Linked DNA regions of Homo sapiens. The protein of the gene in region 3 interacts with the protein of the main gene of each other region in a pairwise test. Each region holds a gene or a part of one and is shown on either strand. Other genes may lie near its edges.

Region 1 (4,827 bases), on a different chromosome or scaffold from region 3:
GCAGCATGGGGGCCACACGGGCCGGCCACGCACACTGGCCTGGGTCCGCATTCCCTATTTCAGGCTGTTGTCTCGGGTCAGATCTCCGGAAGCGGCAGGAGCGCTGGGTCTCCTGGTCGTGGCCGGGCAGCGTCTTTCTTCTTCAGGGTCTGGATGCCACTTCCCGCCTCCTCCCTGTGCCCAGTGGAAGGAGAAACATCCTAGAGGGTGGAGACTGCCCTGTTTTTCTTTTGCCATTGAGTCCCAGTGTGACTCAAGCACGAGGCCACCTTTCTCTGCCAGAGGACAGAAAGCTTCAGTGACTGGCCCAGGGTCACACAGTTCTGCCGCCCAGCCCAGCAGCCTGAGCCAGCAGTCAGGATGGGGTGGGGACACTCCGTCTCTCTTGAGACCCCACTCAGAGAATGGGGCTGACACTGTAGGAGAAATATAAGCAGGACTCCTGCTGGCTGCTCCCCTCCTGCATGAGGCATGTTAGAGGGACTGGGACCGCCAGCCCCCAGCTCCCATGCCGGGCCTCGGCCCAGTCTCAGCTCCTGTTTGGGAGGGGGGGCAGAGGGGCAGGGGGGCAGAAGTTGAGTCTGGGAGCTGGGGCAGGGCACAGGCTCTAGGGTCCAGCTGTCCTCCTCTCCCCTCCCCTGCTGGCCACTCCTGCTGCCGTCTCCACAGCTCTGGAATGATGAAGTGGACAAGGTAAGTTGGGGCCTGGGGGGCTGGGCTCGAGGAAGAAGGGGTGGCGGGGTGCAGGCACACTTGCTGCTGTGGGGTCTGATCTGTTTCTCACTCTGCCCCACACCCACTGGGGAGGGGTTACTGCTTTCCCTCCCTGGGCCTCAGTTTCCCCTCTGTGGGGAAATGTTTTCTCCACAGTACCCTGTAGCACACAGTAGGCCCTCAGGATGCACTTGCTGGGTGGATTTCTCCGATGGGTGATGGAGGAAGGGTCTGTCACTGCAGCTGCCTGTGGGGTCCTGAGTGGGGCTCTAGCTTCTCTGGGGTTGGGGCTCCAGGTGTGAAGTCAGGCATAGACCCAGAAGGCTCTCTGTGTTCCCAGGGGAAAGGGACAGGCGGCTCCCAGGTAGGCTCCAGGAGAAGACTGCGGGGAAGCTGGTGGGTGGTGTGTGGGTGCTCATGGCTGCCCTGCCCTGCCCAGGCCGAGCAGGAGCTCCGCGTGGCCCAGACAGAGTTTGACCGGCAAGCAGAAGTGACCCGTCTCTTGCTGGAGGGAATCAGTAGCACTCACGTGAGTCCCACTGCCCACCCTCACTAAACCTAACCCTCAGCAGGCACCAGGTGTGCCTGAACCACAAGGTCAGCAGGGCTGCCCCAGAATGGCCCTCACAGAGCAAGTCCCACCGGGGAGGGTGTGGGCGCAGGGGCAGGGCACCCTGGAATGCCGGAGCAAGGTCTGGTAGAGGACGGGGATGGGGACGGAATTTTTTGTTCTGAGGGCGGGAGGTTAGAAGTCAGCCTCTGGCCTCTTCCCCGCAGGTGAACCACCTGCGCTGCCTCCACGAGTTCGTCAAGTCTCAGACAACCTACTACGCACAGTGCTACCGCCACATGCTGGACTTGCAGAAGCAGCTGGGCAGGTGCGGGGCCAGCACTGCTGAACCCACTGGGGCCCCCTGGCTCCCATACCCTGTCCGTGGGCAGCATGAGCTCCTCTGGGCAAGTCCTGTGACACAAAGCTGGGTTGGAGGGCTCTGCTGGAACCCACTCTGGGTGCGGGCATCTCATGTGTATGAGGGTGGAGTGGCTGGCCTTACTGACGGCCAAGTCCCCTGGAGCCCCTGAGGGTTTCTAGGGAATGCCTGGGTGGGGAGGATGGCAGGGACCAGGGGGTGGGGCCATCTCACCCTTCCCTTGCTTTGCTTTTCCCTTTGTGCTGCCAGCTCCCAGGGTGCCATGTGAGTAGCCGGGGCTGGAGTGGGGCTCCTGGGGCTGGGGAGGGGAGTTTGCCTCTGGGGTCCCTTCTGGGACTCCCACCTGCTAAGATGTATCCCTCCTCTCCAGATTTCCCGGCACCTTCGTGGGCACCACAGAGCCCGCCTCCCCACCCCTGAGCAGCACCTCACCCACCACTGCTGCGGCCACTATGCCTGTGGTGCCCTCTGTGGCCAGCCTGGCCCCTCCGGGGGAGGCCTCGCTCTGCCTGGAAGAGGTGGCCCCCCCTGCCAGTGGGACCCGCAAAGCTCGGGTGCTCTATGACTACGAGGCAGCCGACAGCAGTGAGCTGGCCCTGCTGGCTGATGAGGTGGGCCCGGTGCCGCAAGGTGGGGCAGGAATGGGCTGGGTGAGGAGCAGCCTGGGCACTGGGATCAGGCACATGGGGCCTGGAGGGGCCCTGTTGGCAAAGTGGGGACCAGCAGGTTAAAGAGGGCATATCCAGCTCTGAGGAAAGGATCCTTGCTCTGCTGGGTCTCTGGAGCAAGTGAGATGAGCGCCAGCCACTGAAGGTGTAGCACATGCCACGGGCCATGGGGAGGTGGCAGCTCTGTCCCCACTTAGTCCTGGGGCCAGTTCCACCCTTGGCCAGGCCATGACCGTCCTCTACTGCCATCTCTGCAGCTCATCACTGTCTACAGCCTGCCTGGCATGGACCCTGACTGGCTCATTGGCGAGAGAGGCAACAAGAAGGGCAAGGTCCCTGTCACCTACTTGGAACTGCTCAGCTAGGCAGGTGCCCCCATCCCCCCCGCATTCTGGCCTAGGCAGGAGAGGATGGGCGCAGCCCTGCCACTTAACTTGTTTGTTGGTGACACAGTTGTTCAGAGTGGGGAGAATTCACCCCATTCTGTCCCTGCCCCTAGTCACCTAGCTGTGAGGGTGCCTGAGGCTGAATGGCTCCACCCCTCCCCCAGCCCTGCTTCTGACCTGTGGCTCTGGAGCCCCTGCCCCTGCCTGCATCCCCGAGCACCCCACCCTCCAGGCTCCACTAAGGAGGGAGGGGCTGTCTGCAGCAGCTGCACTCAGCACCTAGGCCAGGGTGGGGCCGCCGCAGATGGGCTCAGGAAGCCCCAGGTGCACTCAGCGAGAGCCCTGCCTTTCAGTTGCCAAAAGCTGCATCAGGGGAATGCGGCAAGGCACACAGGGCTCTGGCAGCCCCTGGGGACTGGGCGCTGCCCCTGGGAGGGGAGAGCCTGGCCAGGGCTGGTGTTGGGCCCGGAGCAGCATCTTCCGGTGCTATCCTCCCCTCCCACCCCTCACAGCTCAAGCCAAGTCCAGCGGCCGCAGTCTTCACCTCTCCACACTCACTTTTTATCTGGTGTTTTTACTTCTGCCTGCGTTTGCTCTCTAGCCAATAAACCGTCCTTGTGTGCGAGTCACCTGGGCTCCTGTCAGGGCCTGGCCCTGAGGGTGGTAAAGGGAAAGGTAGACTCACCCTCTGCCCCACTCTTCCACAGAGTGAGCAGGGGCCCTGTGGCTGCCCCGGCCCCCAGCTCTCTAGTTGGGAAGAAGTGCAGCCCTCCCTGTCTTCTGCGGGGCCTGTGCCTCTCAGAGGGCAGTGCTGTTCCTGGACATGAAGCCGCACAAGGAACGTTTTATTCCTAAGAAAAAGTTTCCTAAATTTGGATTGTGGAGCGGACTGTAGAATGCGTCTGACAGTTCAGTTCAAGCACAAGAAGTGGGTAGCGGTCAGTGCTGTCTGCAGGTCGGGCGTTTCACCCAGCATGTGCCCCCGTGCCATGGGTTCTCATGCCGTCCTCAGTGTCCACATTTCACAGATGAGATCAGCAAGACAGTCAGCTCCTCAAGGGACCACAGTTGGCAAGTGGCCAAGCAGGGACTGAAGCCCAGGCAGCCTGATTCTAGAAACCCTAAGTGATGTCTGTGTTTTAGATGGCCCCTAGCAGGACCTAGCATTCTGACTTCAGTCCTGAGAAGGCCAACAGCCAGTAGGCCCCACTGTTGGGGCTTCTGAAGAGGGGATCGGGGGATGACGGGGGCACGGGGCTATAAATAGGAAGGCACAGAGCTTCAAGAAAGGCTCACCCAGGGATGAGCTCAGCCCACTGGGCCAATGAAAGCAGGGTCAAGGACAGGACCAGCGCAGGCCAAGGAAGGGAATATCTGACAGCGCCCACCCAGCCAAACCCTCAGCCCAAGGACAGGAATGAGGAGATGCTGGTGAACTAGCCATCCATCAGTACCTGCCTTCCCCCGAGGCTGCAGCCCCACTCCCAGGCGCCTGGCCAGGGGAGTTTTCTAGGTTCTGAGAGCCACGTTGTCATCCCTGGGCTTTGAAGTTAAACATCACACAGCTGTCTATAAACAAGATTTTAATATCTGTATAAATAGACCACAGAATTACCAAAACTGCAAAGACAGAGTGTGGAAAACAGGTTTGAAACCCGTGCATAGAGCCCTCTGCTGGGCTGCCGCCTCTCCCCTGGCCGGCAGTGCTGTGGGGAATGCTGGAAAGGAAGGAAAGTTCCTCTAGGGGGCGTCTGCAGCGTGAGGACCTGAGCACAGAAGACTCGGCTCCCCATGCCTGCTGTTGACCTCTTCATCTAGTATAAAAATAACGTCAGTGGGTGGTGGCTGGAGTCGTGGCTACTCCGGGAGGGGGGTGACAGGAGGTGCCCTCCATTGTATAGGCCCTAGCAGCCAGCAGCACCCCTGCCAGCCAGGGTGCAGTGTAGGCTGGTGGAGAGGGGTAGGTGGGCAGAACAGCACTGCCCTATCTTTGCATATGCCGGACAAACGCCTGCACCAACTGGATCAGAGGCTCCTGACTCTCAGGGCTGGCTTTGGAGAGAGAGGTGGACTTGCCCTGCGGCGAGGGGAGGACACCAGTGGCAGGGGAGCTGGGGGCTCCCCGGC
Region 2 (7,031 bases), about 22 Mb from region 3:
AGGCCGGACAGTGAAACCTTCTTCATCCACCTCTGGACATGTCTAGGGGAGTCAGGGGGCAGCAGTGAGTCAGGCGCCCCACTATCGAACCTTCCATCTCACCCTGCCAACCGCCCCCCGCCCTGCCCCCAGGCCTTGACTCAGACCTCAAAACCAACCCTGATGGCAACGACTGTCTTCCCTGGGTGTGTGGGCAGGTTCCTGGGACAAACTGAGCTTCGGCAGGGACATTATTCACACCCACGTAGTCCATGGGACTTTGCAGCTGAGGTGGGATATGAACCCAGCCCCCAGGCTCCAGCCCGCCCCTCAATCTCGGCTCTTTAGTTTCCAGTAGGGATCGGGACTCTAGGAGCCAAGAGTGGGATCAAACTCCTTCCACTTGTAGCCCAGCCTGACCCCTCCCACATCACTCACCCCTGAATCGGGCTCCAGGAAATCTCTGGGGATGGAGGAAGAGATGTTGGTGTCAGCTTCCGCAGCCCATCTGGTGCCCCCTGTCAGCCCCCAACACTGGACATGGAAGCTGGGGCAGCTCCCAGACTGTGATACTGCCCTGAGCTAGCCCTAGAGGCGGTGGGACCATGGGGCTTGCTTGGGGAGGGGGTTGAATCTGAAGTTAGCTGAGTAGAGAGTGTTCTCAAACAGCCTGGGAGGGAAGGAATCCTGGAACTCATTTGAAGGGCTGCCTTGTGAAGATAGGGAAAGTCGGGGCTAGCCTTGGCAAACAGAACAATCCTGGGCCAGCTTGGGCAGGGAAGATGCTACGTTACTCTGGGACAGGCAATTCCTGGCCTAACCTAGCAAAAGGAAGAATTCTGGACTAGCTTGGGCAGCGGTAATATTGAGCTAGCCGGGGGCAGAGGTACTCCTGGTCTAGCTCAGGTAGAGGGAATCCTGGTCCAGCCTGGAATATGGATACTCCTGGGCTATCCTAGGAGGGGACTTCTGGGATAGCCTGGGCAGGGGAGGGGATCTCGGTCTAGCCTGGGCCAGACCGGGCAGGGGTGCTTCCTCACACAGCTGCAGGTGGCTCTGGCTCCCGCTCCCGCCGGCTTAGTCCTGGAAGGCGAAAGGCCTTGGCTCCCCGCAAACGTTTCATCGCTGAGGATAGATTGGGGGGCACCTGAGCACTGTGAGCCTCCTTTCACATTCAGATCAGCCTCCCTCACCCCCATGGTCCAGCCTGGGCATCCAGGCCCAGACGTACTTGCCTTCCTGCAGGGCAGCCGCACTGTATGCCTCGAAGTCCAGAGGTCCTGAGACAGGAGACGGAAACTCAATTGAGGGGCTGGGCACGGTGGCCCATGCCTGTAATCCCAGCACTTTGGGAGGCTAAGGCGGGCGGATCACCTGAGGTCAGGAGTTCAAGACCAGCCTGGCCACCATGGTGAAACCCTGTCTCTGCTAAAATTACAAAAAAGCCGGACATGGTGGCAGGCGCCTGTAATCCCAGCTACTGGGGAGGCTGAGGCAGGAGAATCGCTTGAACCCAGGAGGCGGAGGTTGCAGTGAGCCGAGACTGCACCACTGCACTCCAGCCTGGGTGACAGAGCAAGACTCTGCCTCAAAAAAATTAAAAAAAAAAAAAAAAGAGAGAGAGAGAGAGAAAGAAACTAAATTGAGGGTGGGGAGACTGCGCTTGGAAAGGGTAGTACACTTTTGGCCACAAAATGGCACCTGGATCTGAACTCAAGGTCCATCAGGTTCCCGGACAAGAACCAGCCCCACATCATCAGAAGTGGGATGGACCAAGGGGCTGGTCTGGTTCCAGCAGGGCAGTGCCACCGCAGGGGGTGACATGAGCTACTTCTACATACTTCCAGCATTTGTGGCTGGAACTTGGGTTGGGTCGGGGAATGGACCATGCGTCTGTGCAGTGGGCTGGGCTTTGAGTGACAGGATAAGGAGTGGGAACTCTCTCCCAAGAACAATGGGGAGCCATGGAAGGTGTGTGAGCAGGAGGAGGACAAAACAGATCTGGGGCCTGTGAAGGGCAAGAGTGGGGCCCCATGCAGGGAGGGGAGACCTGAGCCAGGCCTGAGCCAGAGCGACAGGAGGGAGAAAGAACAGGTTTTGCTAGTTAACAAGACTTGAGGACGTAACTGTATACCAGCATTTAGTGAGTGCCTACTGTGTGCCTGGCACACCCTTTGCCCTTTACCTGCATGAAATCACTGAATGTTGCAACATTATTACATCCTCACTTTACAGATGAGGAAACTGAGGCTCAGAGAAGTCAAAGCACAGGTCCTAGGTCACACAGCAAGCGATGAAGAAAAGACTCAAACCCACGTCTCACTCTAAAACTTTTGCTCTTAACTCCTTCCCAGTCCTGCATCTGCGCATTCCCAAATTGTTCTTTTGCTCAACAACCCTCAATGGCTCCCTTAGGCCCTGGGGGTGAAGTCTGATCAGCCAAGCCTGGCATTCAAGGCTCCTCTGGGATCTGGTTCAAAGACATTTACACATAAGATCAGGCTGGAGAGCTGGACTTGTCAGCAGCCCATTTTTCCCATGAAGAAACCAAGGCCTGGCCATGTGCAGTGGCTCACGCCTGTAATCCCAGCACTTTGGGAGGCCGAGGCAGGCAGATCACCTGAGGTCAAGAGTTCGAGACCAGCCTGGCCAACATGGTGAAACCTCGTCTCTATTAAAAATAAAAAAATAAAAAAAAAATTAGCTGGGCATGGTGGCACATGCCTGTCTGCAGCTGTGGCCCCGAAGCCCGACCCCCAATGGCTGCCCTGACTCACCAGGCTTCTCCCGGCCTGTGCCCTTACTCTCTGCAAACTTCCTGAGTAGCATCTCCACGCTGACGTTCTCGATGTTCTGCTTAAATTCCTCATGCACCTGTGCCGGGTGGGCGGGGTGTGTAACTGGTCAAGGCCCCTTTGCCCAGCAGTGACCCCAGCCTCATTCCTCACACCTGCCCAACTCACCTGCCCAATCTGCACGTGCGTGTCCTCCACCGAGTGAGCATATGAGCCCAGCAGTGCCTTCATGTGCCTCAGGTGTGTCTCCTCCATGGCTTGGAAGCGCTGAAGCAGGAGGGCAGAGGCAGGTGGAAAGGAGGTCAGGGCCAAGAAGAAGTGGCCATATGACTCAGCCTGACCAATCAGAATACCCTAAGCCCTTGGCTCAGTGATTGATTTGGGGAAGGGCCAATGAGAGTCTGCCCTAGGACTTTCATTGACTCTACAGGAAAAGGCACTTCCATTCCTGAGCCAATGTGCTGATGGGATGTAAGTGGGGGTTGCTGGTGCCCAGTTTGATGCACACATGTGCATGCTTGCACACACATGCACACACACACACACACAAGGGGATGTCTGTGTGGGAGTGATGTCCCCAGAGAGAAAAACAGACTTAAGAAGCAGAAATAGTGGTCAGCTGTGGTGTATCATGCCTGTAATCCCAGCACTTTGGGAGGCCAAGGCAGGTGGATCATCTGAGGTCAGGAATTCAAGACCAGTCTGGGCAACATGGTGAAACCGTTTCTACTAAAAATACAAAAATTAGCTGGGTGTGGTGGCACGTGCCTGTAATCCCAACTACTAGGGAGGCTGAGGCAGGAGAATCACTTGAGCCCAGGAGGCGGAGGTTGCAGTGAGCTGAGATCACGCCACTGCACTCCAGCCTGAGTGACAGAGAGATCCCATCTCAAAAAAATAAAAGAAGCAGAAATTCACAATTTCCTGCCAGCACTATTTGAGCACATGGATTCAGCTATGACTGAAACCTCCACAACTCAAAAATAAAACTTTACAGTTCCCTGAGCTTGTCAGTTTTTTTAAATTTTATTTTTTATTTTATTTTTTATTTTTTTGAGACAGAGTCTCGCTCTGTCGCCCAGGCTGGAGTGCAGTGGCGCAATCTCGGCTCACTGCAAGCTCCGCCTCCTGGGTTCTCGCCATTCTCCGGCCTCAGCCTCCTGAGCAGCTGGGACTACAGGCACCCACCACCACGCCCGGCTAATTTTTTTGTATTTTTAGTAGAGAGGGGGTTTCACCGTGTTAGCCAGGATAGTCTCGATCTCCTGACCTCGTGATCCACCTGCCTCGGCCTCCCAAAGTGCTGGGATTACAGGCATGAGCCACCGCGCCCAGCCTTTTTCTTTTCTTTTCTTTTTTTTTTTTATATACACCTGTCGGTTTGAATGAAGGCTTCTATCACTTGTAACTTGAAAAAAGTTCTGATTCCTAATCCTCAGATTCCAATCTGCTTGAATTTATTTTATTTTTTCGAGACAGGGTTCCACTCTATCACCTAACCTGGAGTACAATGGCTCGATCTTGGCTCACTGCAACCTCCGCCTTCTGGTTCAAGTGATTCTCCCGCCTCAGCCTCCTGAGTAGCTGGGATTACAGGCACCTGCCACTACGCCCGGCTAATTTTGTATTTTTAGTAGAGACAGGCTTTCGCCATGTTGGCCAGGCTGGTCTCAAACTCCTGACCTCAGGTGATCCTCCCGCCTCGGCCTCCCAAAGTGCTGGGATTACAGGTGTGAGCCACCACACCCTGCCTGGGATTTCTGCAGTCCATAACCTCCAGGGCAAAGGCATGTGTGGGTCTTAAAGGTACAGATGCCTGGTTCTTACCAGGGCTGAGTCCAGCATCTTCTGCTCAAAGTCAGCTCGGGCTGAGTTGTATTTTTCCACTGAGCGCCGCAGGCTCTCTGCCGCCTTCTTGGTTTTAGTCTCCGCCTACAAAGCACAGGGAGGAAACGGGGATGGGAGGGCGATACTCAGGGGGCCTCCCCCAGGCCCCATCACCTGGCAGGTGAACTCCTCGGGGTACCCAGGGTGTGATCACCCACAGGTTCCAGGACCGTCGCTCTGGGATGTGTTTCCACTCTCTGATCAGGCAGCCCCTCCGCCCCGCGGCAAATTCCTCAGAACCCCCCCACTGTGAGCCCACCTTGTCCATCTCCTTCTGGCTGGTACTCTCCCTCCGCAGCCGCTCCTGGTCCATGCAACGGTTCAGGTAGTTCTCGCGGGACTTGGGCAGGAGCTGGCTGACGCCCGAGAGTACCTGCACAGCATCCAAGGTGCTCACCACTTCCTCCTTGCACTGCGGGGTAGGAGGGGATTTCATGGGTAGACTGTGAAATTCCTGACCTCCCAAACACTCCACGTGATGTCAGCTCCACAGTCTTTTTCTATGTGTGTGTGTGTGTTTTGGTTTGGTTTTTTTTAGACAGAGTTTCGCTCTTGTTGTCCAGGCTGGAGTGCAGTGGCACGATCTCGACTCACTGCAATCTCTGCCTCCCGGTTTCAAGCAATTCTCCTGCCTCAGCCTCCCAAGTAGCTGAGATTACAGGTGCTCACCATCACACCCAGATAATTTTTTGTATTTTTAGTGGAGACGGGGTTTCACCATGTTGGCCAGGCTGGTCTCTAACTCCTGACCTCAGGTGATCTGCCCACCTTGGCCTCCCAAAGTGCTGGCATTACAGGTGTGAGCCACCACGCCCGGCCTCTGTGTGTGTGTTTTAATAGCAATGGGGTCTTGCTATGTTGCCCAGGCTGGTCTCAAACTCCTACACTCAAGCAATCCACCTGCCTCAGCCTCCCAAAGTGTTGGGATTACAGGTGTGAGCCACTACGCCCGGCCTGTACGTTTTTCATTTCAAAACATTTTTAACTTTAAAAAAAAGTACTATTTACACATGGTTCATATTTCAGAAAGTTGTAAGAGGTAAGCCAGGAAAAAGCCTCCCATATATGGGCCCTCCAGCCTAGAAGTCCCCAATTATTACTGTGATACTTCTCTAGAAATAATCCGCATATGGATAAAGATGCTTGTTCTAACCCAAGTTTTATGACAAACAGTGGCAGACTGTGTTGCTTAACTCACCGTTTTGTGTGTGTGTGTGTGTGTGTGTGTGTGTGTGTGTGTGTGTGTGTGTGTGTGTTTGAGACGAAGTCTCGCTGTGTCACCCAGGCTGGAGTGCAGTGGCGCGATCTTGGCTCACTGCAAGCTCCGCCTCCCGGGTTCACGCCATTCTCCTGCCTCAGCCTCCTGAGTAGCTGAGACTACAGGCGCCGCCACCACGCCCGGCTAATTTTTCTTTTGTATTTTTAGTAGAGACGGGGTTTCACCGTGTTAGTCAGGATGGTCTCGATCTCCTGACCTCGTGATCTGCCTGCCTCGGACTCCCAAAGTGCTGGGATTACAGGCTTGAGCCACCGTGCCAGGCCTTTTTTTTTTTTTTTTTTTTGAGGCGGAGTCTTGCTCTTTCACCCAGGCTGGAGTGCAGTGGCACAATCTCAGCTCCCTGCAACCTCCGCCTCCCGGGTTTAAGCGATTCTCCTGCCTCAGCCTCCCAAGTAGCTGGGATTACAAGCATGCACCACCATGCCCGGCTAATTTTGTATTTTTAGTAGAGACAGGGTTTCACCATTTTGGCCAGGCTGGTCTTGAACTCCCGACTTCAGGTGATCTGCCCGCCTCAGCCTCCCAAAGTGCTGGGATTACAGACATAAGTCACTGTGCCCAGCTTTTTTTTTTAAGAGATGGGGTCTCACTGTGTTGCCCAAACTGGTCTCTAACTCTTAGGCTCAAGCAATTCTCACACCTCAGCTCAGCCTCCCAAGTAGCTGGGACTACAGGCATGCACACCACGCCTGGCCTGCTTTTACCACTTAAAAATTCACTCCTGGCCAGGCACAGTGACCCATGCCTGTAATGCCAACATTTTGGAAGGCTGAGGCAGATATGTTAGATGTTTGACCAGCCTGGGCAACACAGCAGGACCCCTTCTCTCTCTCCTTTTTTTTTTTTTTGCCTTGTTTTGTTTTTGAGACAGAGTCTCACTCTGTTGCCCGGGCTGGAGTGGTGTGTCGCGATCTCAACTGACTGCAACCTCCACCTCCCAGGCTCAAGTCATTCTCCTGTCTCAGCCTCCTGAGTAGCTGGGATTACAGGTGTGTGTGCCACCACGTCTGGCTAATTTTTGTGTTTTTAGTATAGACAGGGTTTCACCATGTTGGCCAGGCTGGTCTGGAACTCCTGACTTCAAGTGATAT
Region 3 (7,403 bases):
GGAAGATGGGCCCCAAGGGACTGGTGGCACCAGGTCAATGAAAGCTGCCTCCTGCTCTAAGAGCCCACAGAGCTCCAGCGCTGGAAGATCCTGAAGTACTCACCTTGTATTCCTTGTGACGCACATAGATGCACAGCTCAAATGGTTTGCCATCTTCAAAGGGTAAATAGTAGCATTTCTCCTCATATCTCCATATGCCAAACACACAACTGTTCATGATTGCAGGATGACCAAAGTGCAGTCGGAATTGGAAAGCAATATCTGAGTCCTCATCCATCCCAGTGTAGAAATTCACCTCCAGCTGTGGGTCCTTGCTGAGGTCAAAGCACACAGCATGTTGGGCAGGTCCCCCCATTGTGCAGACACACACTCGCCACACACACAAATCCCTTCCCCCCTTTACCCAGGGCAAAAAGTCTCCCCGATGATACTGCAGTCCTGGTCCCTGTGGGGACGCTTTAGCTCCTCATGCCCCCAGGCAGGGAGATGCTGTGTTCCTCATCCCCAGACAAAAACTGAGCGCCAGTCAGTGACATGGGCCTATGACTTGTTCATTTCCTGAAAATTCTATGCCCTTTAATAAAGAGCCACAACCCAAACCCACTGAGTGTTCTCCTCCCCTAGGTTCCGTGGCTGGCCTGCATGCAGTTTCTACAGGTCTCATGTCTGTTGCTGGAAGGTCTCCAGGGCCTGCACTTGCATGAGGCCTTCATTATGCCAACTAGAGTTTTCCACATCACTCACACATAAGGTTAAACCCTTAGCAAATATTCTCCCTTCTCTCCTCCACCCCCTCCATTGGACCATGGAGTACTCACACAAAAGTGAGGATCGGTGTCCCTGTGATTATCACGCACGAACCAACAGGCAAGGAAACAGGCAGTGTGTATGGTACCTGCCAGGGTATGGAGAGTGAGTGAGAGCTAAAGGGTAAGGTGTAACCTCCCCTATGTAACAGATTCCCATGGTGCAGGAGGTTAGAGATCAAAGGTCAGACTCTGAGGCCTCTCCCCTTTCACCCTACCACAGTCAGGGCCCCATATTCCTGAAGATATGGTGGATCCATAGGTAAGAGCAATTGTTCAAGAGCCCGGATGCCTGGATTCCAGTCCTCATTTTGCCTTATACTAGCAGTGCAATCTTAGATCTATTACTTAACCTCTCCCTGCCTCAGTTTCCCCAGGACAAGGAGGACTATCAGGAATTCCTACTTTGTAGGGTGTTCTCAGTAATAGAGGAGTTAATATAGGTAAAACTTTTACCCTAATCCCTGGCATGTATAGGGTCAATTAGGGGTGACCTAACAGAACAGGGGAGTCCTCCTGAAACACTGACCTGCCTTATTTTCAACTCAGAAAATGAAAACAAGACTTGAGGGTGAAAGAATTTAAAAATTCACTCCAGTGAGAAACAACACTTGTTGAAAGAGAAAGGGAAATGACGAAAGAACAGGAAACCCCTGTGTGTGGGATGTACACGCACCACAATCATCAAGGGCAATGGACGTCCTTCCCAGAAGCGGCACACATTACTGACAGCACAGCCCCAGTACTTGCACAAATGAAGCCTGTGGGTCAGGGACATAACTGGAGGGAATGATTGATTTCTACGACGACTGCAAGTGGTTGATGATTTTTCTGTATTTTTGAGATAGGGTCTTGCTCTGTCACCCAGGCTGATATGCAGTGGTGCAATCACAGCTCACTGAAACATCGAACTCCTGGACTGCAGTGATCCTCACACATCTGCCCCCTCTTGTGTAGCTGGGGTGAAAGGTGTCTGCCACTCTGCCAGTCAGATATTTAAAGATTTTTAAAGAAAGCATATCACTATGATGCCTAGACCGGTCTCAAATTTCTGGCCTCAAGTTACCCTCCCATCTTTGCCTCCCAAATTGGTGGGATTATAGTCATGAACCAGTGAACCCAGCTGCTTTGTTGAGTAATGTCCACAGTAAGCACTGTCTGAATTCAGACAGCTTGTTCTTTCATGAGTGGAGGAACAAGTTTAGTCTCAGTTCAGACAGAGCTTACAGTGGATATTTTGTTTGATTCCGTCTCTTTAACCACGGCCTCTAATATTCTTCCCTGGCAAATCAGTATCTTCACACTCGCCTGTTCCACAATGGGAAGAACAGGCTGGGCTAGCGACAGGGAAGCTGAGCCTGGGAGGCAAAAGCCAGTGATCACTCTGTGCAGTCCCCACCTGAGGAACCATCTCTCCCATAATCTGCGTTCCTTTTCCTCACTCTTACTGGGAAGAGATATCTACTGATGATATATTTCGCTCTCATAAGTGATCTGAAACGAGTCCTTGGTAACTCACAATCCCCAAGATCCCCACCAGTTAAGCCACTTGGGATCCACATTGCCACACATGAAAAGACACACAGGTGCTTCATCAGAGGTGCTGCTGTGTGGGGAGGAACCTTCACATGCACAGAAGGCCACGTGCATGTTTTCCCTTCAATACCCAGTCACATCCCAGCACACACACCCATAGTCACACAGAGCCATGCCACTCACTGAGTTACACACACCTGCTCACTGTGCACATAAAGATGACCATGCACTGGTCTGGCTGTGCCCACACACACTCACATCACAGACAGGAAGACAAAGCACACTCACCCCCTTACACTCACTCACACACTTGCCGGTCCTGGTGGGTCATCCACCTCCCACCTAAAGTCACTTAATCTCAGCAGAGTTCACTCTCATCAGACACCACCACACCCTCACAGAGGGTTACACTGGTCCAGGGTCCACAGCCTACACCCACAATCATCTCAGATACCACAGCCTCAGGGTTTCTCTTCTACACACCCACAACTCTCGGTAATGCATTCACAGTAGGAATGCTCATATTTTCAACTCAGAAAACCTCCCCTGTTTCTTTCTTGGTTTATGTGACTTGAGATTATTGAAGGCTGTGACTTTTCAACTCACGGGTAGTGATGACATTGTTCTCTCCTTCTGGGCAGCTCTTCGGAATTGTGTCCAGTCTTCTGTGTGAATCTCTGAGTGGGATCATTTAAATGCTGCAACTCAGAGATGCCCTTTGGCTTCATGCCAGATTCCAAGCCCCTCCCAGCAAGCTTTCCGTGCAGCAGGAGAAAGACTCAGGTGTCAGAAAGAAACTCTGTCACAACCATAGATGTTTGCAGGTCTGTGTCTGTAATGCAGCAGAAATGACAGTGGGGGAGGTACCAGGCTGTGGATTGGGTTACCAGGGAAATGCATAGATAAGGATGATGGAGTGAGGGGTAGGGATTGTAAAGCCCAGCCTTTGTGCCTCTCAAGCTTTTTCTCCAGTATGCAGAATCTAGCCAGAAGGTGTACATTTCCTCAATTTGTACAATGACTAAAAATAAAAAATTGGGAATTTTGGAAAAAGACGTTAGACCTAGAAGGTAATTCTTCTCTTTGCCTTTAAAGGTTCTGGGAGGGCCTTTAAGGGTCAGATCCTTTTGACCTTGATCCTCAGGAGGATCTGGGAAGAGAAGTAGAGATAGTTCTTGCATGAACCTGCCTCACACTAGGCCCCTTGGATCTGCCAGGTGAGGGTCACTCTCATCTGTCTGTCACATACCTGGGCTCTAGCTGCATTCTCTGCTTTGTCTTGGAGTCCATGTAAAACAAAGTTTCAGAGATATTGTTTCTCCTGCAGATTCTGGGAGAAAGATGAGATTTTTTTTCTTTTTTCTTTTTTTTTACTTTTATTATAGGTTCAGGGGTACATATGCAGATAAAGTCATGTCATGAGGTTTGTGGTACATATGATTTCTTCACCTGGGTACTAAGCGTAGTACCCAATAGTTATTTTCTCTGCTCCTATCTCACCTTTCACCCTCCAACCTCAAGTAGGCTTCTGTGTGTGTTGTTCCCCTATTGGTGTCCATGAGTCTCATCATTTAGTTCACAATTATAAGTGAGAACATGCAGTATTTGGTTTTCTGTTCCTGCATTAGTTTGCTAAAAATAATGGCCTCCAGCTCCATCCATGTTCCTGCAAAAGACATGAACTCATTCTTTTTTAGGGCTTCATAGTATTCCATTGTGTATATGTATCACATTATCTGTATCCAATCTGTCCTTGATGGCATTTGGGTTCATTCTGTGTCTTTGCTATTGTGCACAGTGTTGCAATGAACATTCATATGCATATGTCTTTAAGGCAGAATAATTTCTATTCTTCTGTGTATACAGTAGTGTATACACCATTCCCAGTAATGGGATTGCGGGGTTTAATGGTAGTTCTGTTATAAGCTCTTTGAGGAATCACCACACTGCTTTCCACAATGGGTGAGCTAATTTACACCACCGCCAATAATCTGTAAGTGCTCCTTTTTCTCCACACCCTTGCCAGCATCTGTCCTTTTTTGACTTTTTAAGAAGAGCCATTCTGACTGGTGTGAGATGGTATCTCATTGTAGTTTTGATTTGCATTTCTCTAATGTTCAGTGATATTGAGCTTTTATTATATACTTGTTGGCCACCTGTATGTGTACTTTTGAGAAGCGTCCCCTGTCTCTACTAAAAATACAAAATATTAGCCGGGCCGGTGGCGGGCGCCTATAGTCCCAGCTACTCAGGAGGCTGAGGCAGGAGAATGGCATGAATGCGGGAGGGAGAGCTTGCAGTGAGCCAAGATCATGCCACTGCATTCCAGCCTGGGGGACAGAGTGAGACTTCATCTCAAAAAAAAAAGAAAAGAAAAGAAAAGAAAAGTATCTGTTCTCTGTTCTTGTCTTTTCTCGCCTTTTGTTGTTGTTTTAAGACAGGTCTCACTCTGACATTCAGGCTGGAGTGGTGTGGCTCCATCTTGGCTCACTGCAACCTCTGGCTCCTGGGCTCAGGTGATCCTCCCAGCTCAGTATCCTGAGTAGCTGGTACTGCATACCAGCTGTGCAGACCTCACCTAAGGGACCAGTACCCCCGTAGTCTGTATTCCTCTTCCCCACACTTATTGGAAAGAGACACCTACAGATCATACATTCTGCCTTTAAATTGTTCTTTTTGCCTTTAAAGATTCTGGGACAGCACTGCCCTTGATCCTCAGGATGATCCGGGGGGGAGGTAGAGAACGTCCTTGCATGAACCTGCCCCATGCTAAGCCCTTTGGCTCTACCAGGTGAGGGCTGCTCTCATCTGTCTGTCCCACACCTGGACTCTAGCAATACTCTCTCCTTTCTCTTGATGTCCATGTGAATCAAAGTTTCAGAGACACTGTTTCTCCTGCAGATTCCAGAAGAAAGGTGACATTGGTTTTTTTCTTTGTTTTTTAAACGTTTATTTTATGTTCAGGGGTACATATGCAGGGAAACTCGTGTCATGGGGTTTGCGGTAAAGATTATTTCACATCCAGGTACTAAGCCTAGTACCCAATAGTTATTTTTTCTGCTCCTGTCTCACCTTTTACCCTCCACCCTTAAGTAGGTCTCAGTGTGTGTTGTTTCCCTCTTGGTATCCATGGGCCTCATCATTTAGCTCACACTTCTAAGTGAGAACATGCAGTATTTTGTTTTTCATTTCCACATTGGTTCACTAAGGTTAATGACCTCCAACTCCATCCATGTTCCTGCAAAAGTCATAATCTCATTCTTTTTTGAGGCTGCATAGTATTCTATGGTGTATATGTACCACATTTTCTCTATCCAGTCTGTCCTTTATGAGCTATTAGGTTGAGTCCATGTTTTTGCTATTGTGCATACTGTTGTAATAAACATTCATGTGCACGTTTTTATGGTAGAATGATTTATATTCTTCTGGGTATATACTCAGTGATGGGATAGCTGGGTTGAATGGTAGTTCTATTTTAGCCATTCGAGGAACCATCACATTTCTTTCCACAATGATTAAACTAATTTACACTGCCACCAAAAATGTGTAAGTGTTCCCTTTTCTTCACAAACTTGCCAGTTTCTGTTATTTTTTGACTTTTGAATACTAGCCATTCTGACTGGTGAGAGATGGTATCCCATGGTGGTTTTGATTTGCATTTTTCTAACGTTCAGGGCTGTTGAGCTTCTTTTCATATGCTCGTTGGCCACATGTATGTCTTCTTTTAAGAAGTATCTGTTCCTGTTCTTTGTCTACTTTTTTTGAGACAGCCTGGTCTGACACCCAGGCTGAAGTGCAGTGGTGAAATCTCGTCTCACTGCAACCTCTGCCTGGGCTCAGGCGATCCTCCCAGCTCACCTTCCTGAGTCCCTGAGATTACAGGTGCCTGAGACAAGACTCAGCTAATTTTTCTATTTTTCATAGAGATAGGGTTTTGCCGTGTTGCCAAAGCTGGTCTTGAACTTCTGGACTCAAGCAATCCACCTACCTTAGCCACCCAAAGTGCTGGAATTACAAGCGTGAGCCACTGCACCCAGCCCTTTGCCCACTTTTTTATGGGGTTGTTTGTTCTTTTCTTGTAAAGTTGTTAAAGTTCCTTATAGAAGCTAGATATTAGACAATTTTCAGATACATAATTTGCAAATATTTTCTCCTATTCTGTAGGTTGTCAGTTGACTCTGTTGATAGGTTCTGTTGCTGTGCAGAAGCTCTTTAGTTTAAATAGATCCATTTGTCAATTTTTGCTTTTCTTGTGATTGCTTTTGGCATCTTTGTCAGGAATCTTTTGCCTATTTCTACATTCGGTATGGTACTGCCTAGGTAGACTTCCAGGGTTTTTATAGTTTTGGGTTTTACATTTAAGTCTTTAACCCATCTTCAGTTGATTTTTCTATATAACGCAAGAAAGTGGTTCAGGTTCAATCATCTGCACGTGGCTAGCTAGTTATCCAAAAATTATTTCCATTGCTTGTTTGGTCAACTTTGTCAAAGATCAGATTGCTGTAGGTGTGGGACCTTACTTCTTGCCTCTCTTTTCTGTTCCATTGGTCTATGTGTCTGTTTTTATGCAAGTACTATGCTGTTAGGTTACTCTGGCCCTATAGTGCAGCTTGAAGTTGGGTAATGTGATGCTTCTAGCTTTGTTCTTTTTGCTTTGGAATATCTTTTATTCAACCCACTCGGTTCAATTAATATTTAAAATATTCATTTTAAAATAGATTGTTCTAATTCTGTGAAGAATGTTATTGATAGTTCAATAGGAATACCATTGAATCTGTACATTTCTTTGGGCAATGTGGTTGTTTTAATGATAGTTATTCTTGCTATCTGTGAGCATGGAATGTTTTTCCATTTGTTTGGGTCTTCTCTACTTTTTTAAGCAGTGTTTTGTAATTCTCATTGTAACAATCTTTCACCTCCCAGTTAGTTGTATTCCTAGATATTCTATTCTTTTTATGGAAATTGTGAATGGAATTGCATTCTTGATTTGGCCCTGTGGTTCGTTGTCTTTGGCATGTAGGAATTCTAGTGATTTTTGCACATTGATTTTGTATGCTGAAA
Region 4 (7,031 bases), on a different chromosome or scaffold from region 3:
TGGCCTGCCATCAGAAGTTGACAAATGACCAATTGAGAGCAATCATTGAAGTTGATCGTCTTACAGCTAAGTGAGAAGCTGCCAAAGAACTCAACATTGACCATTCTACGGTCGTTTGGCATTTGAAGCAAATTGGAAAGTTGAAAAAGCTCAATAAATGGGTGCCTCAGGACCTGAAGGAAAATTTTTTAAAATTGTCATTTTGAAGTGCCATCTTATACTACACAACAATAATGAACCATTTCTCAATCGGATTGTGACGTGTGACAAAAAGTGGATTTTATACGACAACTGGCAACGACCAGCTCAGTGGCTGGACCCAGAAGCTCCAAAGCACTTCCCAAAACCAAACTTGCACCAAAAAAAGGTCATAGTCACTGTTTGGTGGCCTGCTGCCGCTCTGATCCACTACAGCTTTCTTCCTTTTTTTTTTCTTTTTTTTGAGACGGAGTCTCACTCTGTCACCCAGGCTGGAATGCAGTGGTACAATCTCAACTCACTGCAACCTCTGCCTCCGAGGTTCAAGCAATTCTCCTGCCTCAGCCTCTCAAGTAGCTGGAACTACAGGTGCACACCACCATGCCTGGCCAATTTTGTATTTTTAGTAGAGACAGGGTTTCGCAATGTTGGCCAGGCTGGTCTCGAACTCCTGACCTCAGGTGATCCACCCACCTCGGCCTCCCAAAGTGCTGGGATTACAGGCGTGAGCCACCACACCTGGCCCACTACAGCTTTCTGAATCCTGGTGAAACCATTACATCTGAGAAGTACACTCAGCAAATCAATGAGATGCACTGAAAACTGCAACACCTGCAGCCAGCGTTGGTCAACAGAAAGGGCCCAATTCTTCTTCATGACAATGCCCAACCGCACGACACACAACAAACGCTTCGAAAGCTGAATGCATTGAGCTATGAAGTTTGCCTCATCCGCCATATTCACCTGACCTCTTGTCAACCACCACTTCTTCAAGCATCTCGACAACTATTTGAAAGGAAAATGCTTCCAAAACCAGCAGGTTTTTGGAAAGCAGAAAATGCTTTCCAAATCCCAAAGCATGAATTTTTAAGCTACAGGAATGAACAAACTTATTTCTCATTGGCAAAAATGTGTTGATTATAATGCTTCCTGCTCTGATTAATAAAGACGTGTCTGAGCCGACTTATAATGATTTAAAATTCACGGTCCAAAACCGCAATTACTTTTGCACCAACCTAATACTTTATATAAATGGTACTATGATCTAATAATTATAGTAACATGATTTGCAAATACTAAAATATTTTGCTTGCCTTGTTCTATAAAATATATGTAATATAATCACTAATCTTTCATAATGTTGATCAGAATACTTTCCAAGTAACATTCAAAAAGTAATCACTTCTAGATGTATCTCTAATAACAGCAAAAACAACAGACTTCTAGATCTATAATTCGGCATCTATCAAGACTAATTGTGGCAGGCACATAATATAACACACTCCCAAAAGAGAAAAAAAATAGACATAACCTTCACCATAGACAGCACAGCCTTCACCATAATTTTTAAAGCATTAATATATTTCCACAAATAATATATTACCTCTTGAACTACATATAAAAATAATCCTTGAGGCAGCCTGGGTTCCAAATATATTGTCCTGAAATTGATAGACAGAAAACAAGTGATATTTGTACATCCATTTTTCTTTTAAGTTTCAGAAGAAAAGCAAAATCAAAAGTATGTTATATTAGCGCCATAGCTAACATCAACATGTTTGACATAAAAAGTACGTATTCTTCAACTTCAAGAAAGGAAAAGATTGTTCTTTGGCTCTAGTCCTAAGCTGGAAACAAGTAACCACAAAACCAGTTTTAAATCTACCCCAGTCAATCCATCCTTAAAGTCTACTCAACCTTTCCACTTAAGCACTTTGCCAACAAAGTAAGCCAATCAGCAACTGCCCCGCTTCAGTACCTTTGCTCCTCAAAGCCGGTCAGTCTCTAAACTCTAAGTTTAAAGCTGGCTAATCCTTAAATTTTTGCACTTTTCAAAATCAGCCAATCTCAAACTCTGTGCTTCCTCAAAACCCTACATAAAAACGTCTCTGCCTGTTTAAAGGACTGTCTTCTGCAAGCACGGTTCTCCCCTACCCAGCAAGTATGGTTTACCAAAACTCAGGTAAGTTTCTACTTAAGTCAAATTAGAATAGGCTTACAAACACTGAATTACCAATGATTCAAGTGGCAACATGAGTTTCAAGAAACCTAATTAAGTTAGGCAAAGATTCTGTGAATTTATCCAGAAATTGTCAGATTTATTTATTGGAGAATATCTGAAGACACAGAATAGCTCAGTGGAAACAGCCAAACTACATTATGAGTTGGGTGGCACTGAATAGGTTATTTAATATCTCTAAACCAACTTCTTTTTCTATAAAATGAGAGTAATAACTCTATTTCACAGTATTGTCAAGAAGATTAAATGGGATAACAATAACTGGTAACTTTAAAAGATTCCTAGGTACGGCCGAGCGCAGTGGCTTACGCCTGTAATCCTAGCACTTCGGGAGGTGAAGGCGGGCGGATCACGAGGTCAGGAGATCGAGACCATCCTGGCTAACACGGTGAAAACCCGCCTCTACTAAAAAAATACAAAAAATTAGCCGGGCTTGGTGGCGGGTGCCTGCAGTCCTAGCTACTAGGGAGGCTGAGGCAAGAGAATGGCGTGAACCCGGGAGGCGGAGCTTGCAGTGAGCCAAGATCGCGCCACTGCGCTCCAGCCTGAGCGACAGAGCGAGACTCTGTCTCAAAAAAAAAAAAAGATTCCTAGGTATAAAGTTCTAGATTTGCTTTCATCACTAACTTATTAACACATATGGAAAGTCATTTAACCTAAGTCTGTTTCTTCATTGGTCTAATAGTGAGGATAATGCATGCCCTACACATTTTATGGGCTGTTTGTAACAATCAAAAATGAAAATTAATGTGAAAAGGATTTTGACAGATATAAACCATGAAACTGTGAAATAGCTAATTTAACATATACAACAATAAAGGGAATTCACACTAGGAAACCTGTTACAATCCAGGATTATATAAAGTCCAGATTAAATTAATTTTAGTAAGAAAAATATTCATAGCCAAAAACAAATACAAAACCACTAGACACACTAGCAACCAAAAAAATTCAAGGCTACTATTATTAGCTCCAAGAATTATTTCCCATTCAGTAAATGAACCAAATTAGCTCAGCTATCCAACAAACTAAAAGCAGTACAACACAATCCTTTGTCCAAGTCAGGCATTTGCCACTTAAAACTACCACCTCCATTTCTAAAGCAAAAAAATAAAAAAATAAAAAAGGAGGAACAGAAGGAAGGAGGGAGTGAAGGAAGAAAAGATATTACAGAATTTCTCAACATCAGGAGTACTGACATTTTGAACTGGATAATTTTCTGTTGTTGAGAAGTTGTCTTGTACATTGTGGGACATTCAGTGACATGCTATAATGGCCTCAATCCACTAGATGCTAGGAGTAATGTCCCCACACACAAATGTGACAACCAAAAATGTTTTCTAGACATTGCCAAATGTCCCCAGAGTGTGTTGGAAAGTAAAAAATCATTCTGAGTTCAGATTCTTCACAGTATCATCTTCCAGTATTTATTTCACACTGCTTGGTGGCTTGCAATGCAGACTGAAATTAATAGCTTTGCAATTGAAGAACCAAATAAGAAAATACTCCCTGTAGAATAGTAACAACTTGAAGAATAATAGCTACGTAGTTATGGTTAAATTATTCCTTTCATCGACATACTGGTTTTGCTTACTATTCCCTAAGAATTTTCTTCTGGGTGTTCTTTTGGGGTTAAAACTTGGTTAACCTGTCACTAAAGCTTAGTCTCCACCTAGACTTACTAATTATTAGCCATTAGTGTAATGTGTTAAAATCAAACCTAAAGATTTTAATTTTTAAGCAACCAAATGTGAAATGAAGCAAAAATAAGTGCTACTTATATAAATTATTTAAATATATTCAAACATTTAGAGTGTAAAGTACACAAACAAGCATCCAGCTACTACTACAAATATATATGAGTTGAAGATAATAATGCAAAAATAAAAGTGATTGCAAGAAGTAGAATTTTGACAAAAACAAGAAATGGGGAAAGGATTCCCTATTTAATAAACGGTGCTGGGAAAACTGGCTAGCCATATTGAGAAAGCTGAAACTGGATTCCTTCCTTACACTTTATACCAAAATTAATTCAAGATGGATTAAAGACTTACATGTTAGACCTAAAACCATAAAAACCCTGGAAGAAAACCTAGGCAATACCATTCAGGACATAGGCATGGGCAAGGACTTCATGTCTAAAACACCAAAAGCAATGGCAACAAAAGCCAAAACTGACAAATGGGATCTAATTAAACTAAAGAGCTTCTGCACAGCAAAAGAAACTACCATAAAGAGTGAACAGGCAACCTACAGAATGGGAGAAAATTTTTGCAATCTACCCATCTGACAAAGGGCTAATATCCACAATCTACAAAGAACTTAAACAAATTTACAAGAAAAAATCAAACAACCCCATCAACAAGTGTGCAAAGGATATGAACAGACACTTCTCAAAAGAAGACATTTATGCAGCCAACAGACACATGAAAAAATGCTCATCATCACTGGCCATCAGAGAAATGCAAATCAAAACCACAATGAGATACCATTTCACACCAGTTAGATTGGCGATCATTAAAAAGTCAGGAAACAACAGGTGCTGGAGAGGATGTGGAGAAATAGGAACACTTTTACATTGTTGGTGGGACTGTAAACTAGTTCAAACACTGTGGAAGACAGTGTGGCGATTCCTCAAGGATCTAGAACTAGAAATACCATTTGGCCCAGCCATCCCATGACTGGGTATATACCCAAAGGACTATAAATCATGCTGCCATAAAGAGACATGCACACGTATGTTTATTGTGGCACTATTCACAATAGCAAAGACTTGGAACCAACCCAAATGTCCATCAATGATAGACTGGATTAAGAAAATGTGGCACATATACACCATGGAATACTATGCAGCCATAAAAAAAGGATGAGTTCATGTCCTTTGTAGAGACATGGATGAAGCTGGAAACCATCATTCTGAGCAAACTTTCACAAGGACAGAAAACCACACACCACATGTTCTCACTCACAGGTGGGAATTGAACAATGAGAACACTTGGACACAGGGTGGGGACCATCACATACCAGTGCCTGTCGTGGGGTCGGGGGAGGGGGAAGGGATAGCATTAGGAGACATACCTAATGTAAATGACGAGTTAATGGGTGCAGCACACCAACATGGGACATGTATACATATGTAACAAACCTGCATGTTGTGCTCATGTACCCTAGAACTTAAAGTATAATTTAAAAAATAAATTTAATTAAAAAAAGAATTATATTTAAATGCTCAGTATGTACTATCACTGGGCTAGACACACTGTTTTCAACAATAAATCTTCATATATATAAAAGTACTCATAAAATAGTTTAAAATTTGCTTGTGCAAATGTAAATTTTAAAAGGAATCTGAATTTTATTTACTATCTAGGATGTTATATTTCGCATGGTCAGTGTTAGAAACAGAGGGTCCTGTTGTTTTCAGATAGAACTTACCATCACTCCCCCTCTGCTGGGAGCTACCTGACACAATTAAATAACCATCAACCTGCCCTCACTGTGCCTGAACTTAAAAGTCAATAACACCTGAGCATCAATAGGCTATTGACTATGCAATTTTACTTTATACCATATATGGGTATCTGATGTTCCTGGGAAACTAACTGCAAATGTGGTGTAAATAAAGACTAATCATTTCAACTCCATTAAATGTAGGGAAGCTACAAGAGCAGATTTAAAACGTTGTGAACTGCAAAATGAGATGGCACCCCTCTACATTTACGTTAGTAGAGGGCTTCTGTTTAGAGTAATCATAGATCTGGTTATTTAGATACTTTCCCAATGAAAGCTTAAAACAAAATATAATTTTATATATTTTTAAAAATTCTGAAATTAACCATAAAATCTACGGCAGTGCAATTTTATATAATTCTTACATGGTTTAAATTTGAAATACTCATGTTAGGAAGTAACAAAATTGTGACAACTGTTGAGGTTATGGTATGCCATGAAAGATCTACGGGAACAAGACACATCTTTTTTTGTTTGTATTTTTCTAGTCTCCATGTTCTACAATGATCCAGCTATACGAGATGTAATCTGCAATTCCACCTACAATATATATCACCAGATCCCCTTTCTATGACAAAAAAAAAATACATGTCAATGTTAGAGATGGTCAGCAAAGAAACTCAAACTTATTCCAATAGGTGGAACTTTGGCATGACACACTTAAACCGGTGGAAACCTGCCTGAATACTTCACCCAACCCCTCCATCACCCTCTATTATGCAAGCTGCAACATTTCAAGCCAACTCCCTTATTTCTCTGGTGAGCCCTGTCAACACTGAGGTAATAGAACTGGAAAAACTCATCACTTCAAAAGGACAGTCAAATATCAGAATTTATTTCATTTGGTAAAAATTCTATCATTGCCAAATAAAGCTAATGCAAATATAGTAAAATATGCATGATTTTGAGTAATTCTTTTGTTGAAAAGGACTCTTGGGGAGCCTCAACTTCATCCTGCAACAGCTTAGGCATTCTTTTGCCCCTTTGCCCTTTTCATGCCCCATCTCACAAGTCATGGAAGCTGGGGAGGGGAGGGTGCAGAAAACCCAAATGAACTAATCGGCATGTATTTATGCATTTAGTCTACTCTAATTTTATTCCCACAGGTTTTTCCTCATACCCTGCTCCTCTAAGGTAAAGAACTGTTTTATTCATCTCTGAACTTCCAAAACCTAACCAAATGCCCATTATATAAAGTCATCCCTAACATCTACTACACAGCAGGCACTGGATTAGGGACTAGAGATAGAGAAGTCAAAGAGACAGACCTTGCCCCTACGGAACCTACAGTGGGGAATACCAG

What was found.
Region 1: the proteins of LGALS14 (region 3) and SH3GLB2 interact in binary tests that used the Homo sapiens proteins (3 or more experiments, as listed by UniProt).
Region 2: the proteins of LGALS14 (region 3) and FCHO1 interact in binary tests that used the Homo sapiens proteins (3 or more experiments, as listed by UniProt).
Region 4: the proteins of LGALS14 (region 3) and ZNF438 interact in binary tests that used the Homo sapiens proteins (3 or more experiments, as listed by UniProt).

The regions. Positions count from the first base shown.
Region 1 is NC_000009.12:129,006,536-129,011,362, reverse strand, and holds the end of SH3GLB2 (endophilin-B2), read left to right. Parts: intron 1-597; coding exon of another isoform or gene 598-669; coding exon 670-693; intron 694-1,153; coding exon 1,154-1,243; intron 1,244-1,491; coding exon 1,492-1,592; intron 1,593-1,895; coding exon of another isoform or gene 1,896-1,910; intron 1,911-2,016; coding exon 2,017-2,257; intron 2,258-2,571; coding exon 2,572-2,679; coding exon of another isoform or gene 2,680-2,821; 3' UTR 2,822-4,327; downstream 4,328-4,827. Other genes in the region: nucleoporin NUP188, read right to left, coding at 4,685-4,827.
Region 2 is NC_000019.10:17,768,467-17,775,497, reverse strand, and holds part of FCHO1 (F-BAR domain only protein 1), read right to left. Parts: intron 5,074-7,031; coding exon 4,921-5,073; intron 4,707-4,920; coding exon 4,602-4,706; intron 3,042-4,601; coding exon 2,943-3,041; intron 2,854-2,942; coding exon 2,757-2,853; intron 1,260-2,756; coding exon 1,215-1,259; exon of another isoform or gene 1,211-1,214; intron 1,105-1,210; coding exon 1,020-1,104; intron 443-1,019; coding exon 418-442; intron 43-417; coding exon 1-42. UniProt on the Homo sapiens protein: Functions in an early step of clathrin-mediated endocytosis. Has both a membrane binding/bending activity and the ability to recruit proteins essential to the formation of functional clathrin-coated pits.
Region 3 is NC_000019.10:39,700,089-39,707,491, reverse strand, and holds the start of LGALS14 (placental protein 13-like), read right to left. Parts: upstream 3,012-7,403; 5' UTR 2,964-3,011; coding exon 2,949-2,963; intron 1,788-2,948; exon of another isoform or gene 1,585-1,787; coding exon of another isoform or gene 1,483-1,584; intron 896-1,482; coding exon 819-895; intron 315-818; coding exon 104-314; intron 1-103.
Region 4 is NC_000010.11:31,021,838-31,028,868, forward strand, and holds part of ZNF438 (zinc finger protein 438), read right to left. Parts: intron 2,567-7,031; exon of another isoform or gene 1,583-2,566; intron 1-1,582. UniProt on the Homo sapiens protein: Isoform 1 acts as a transcriptional repressor.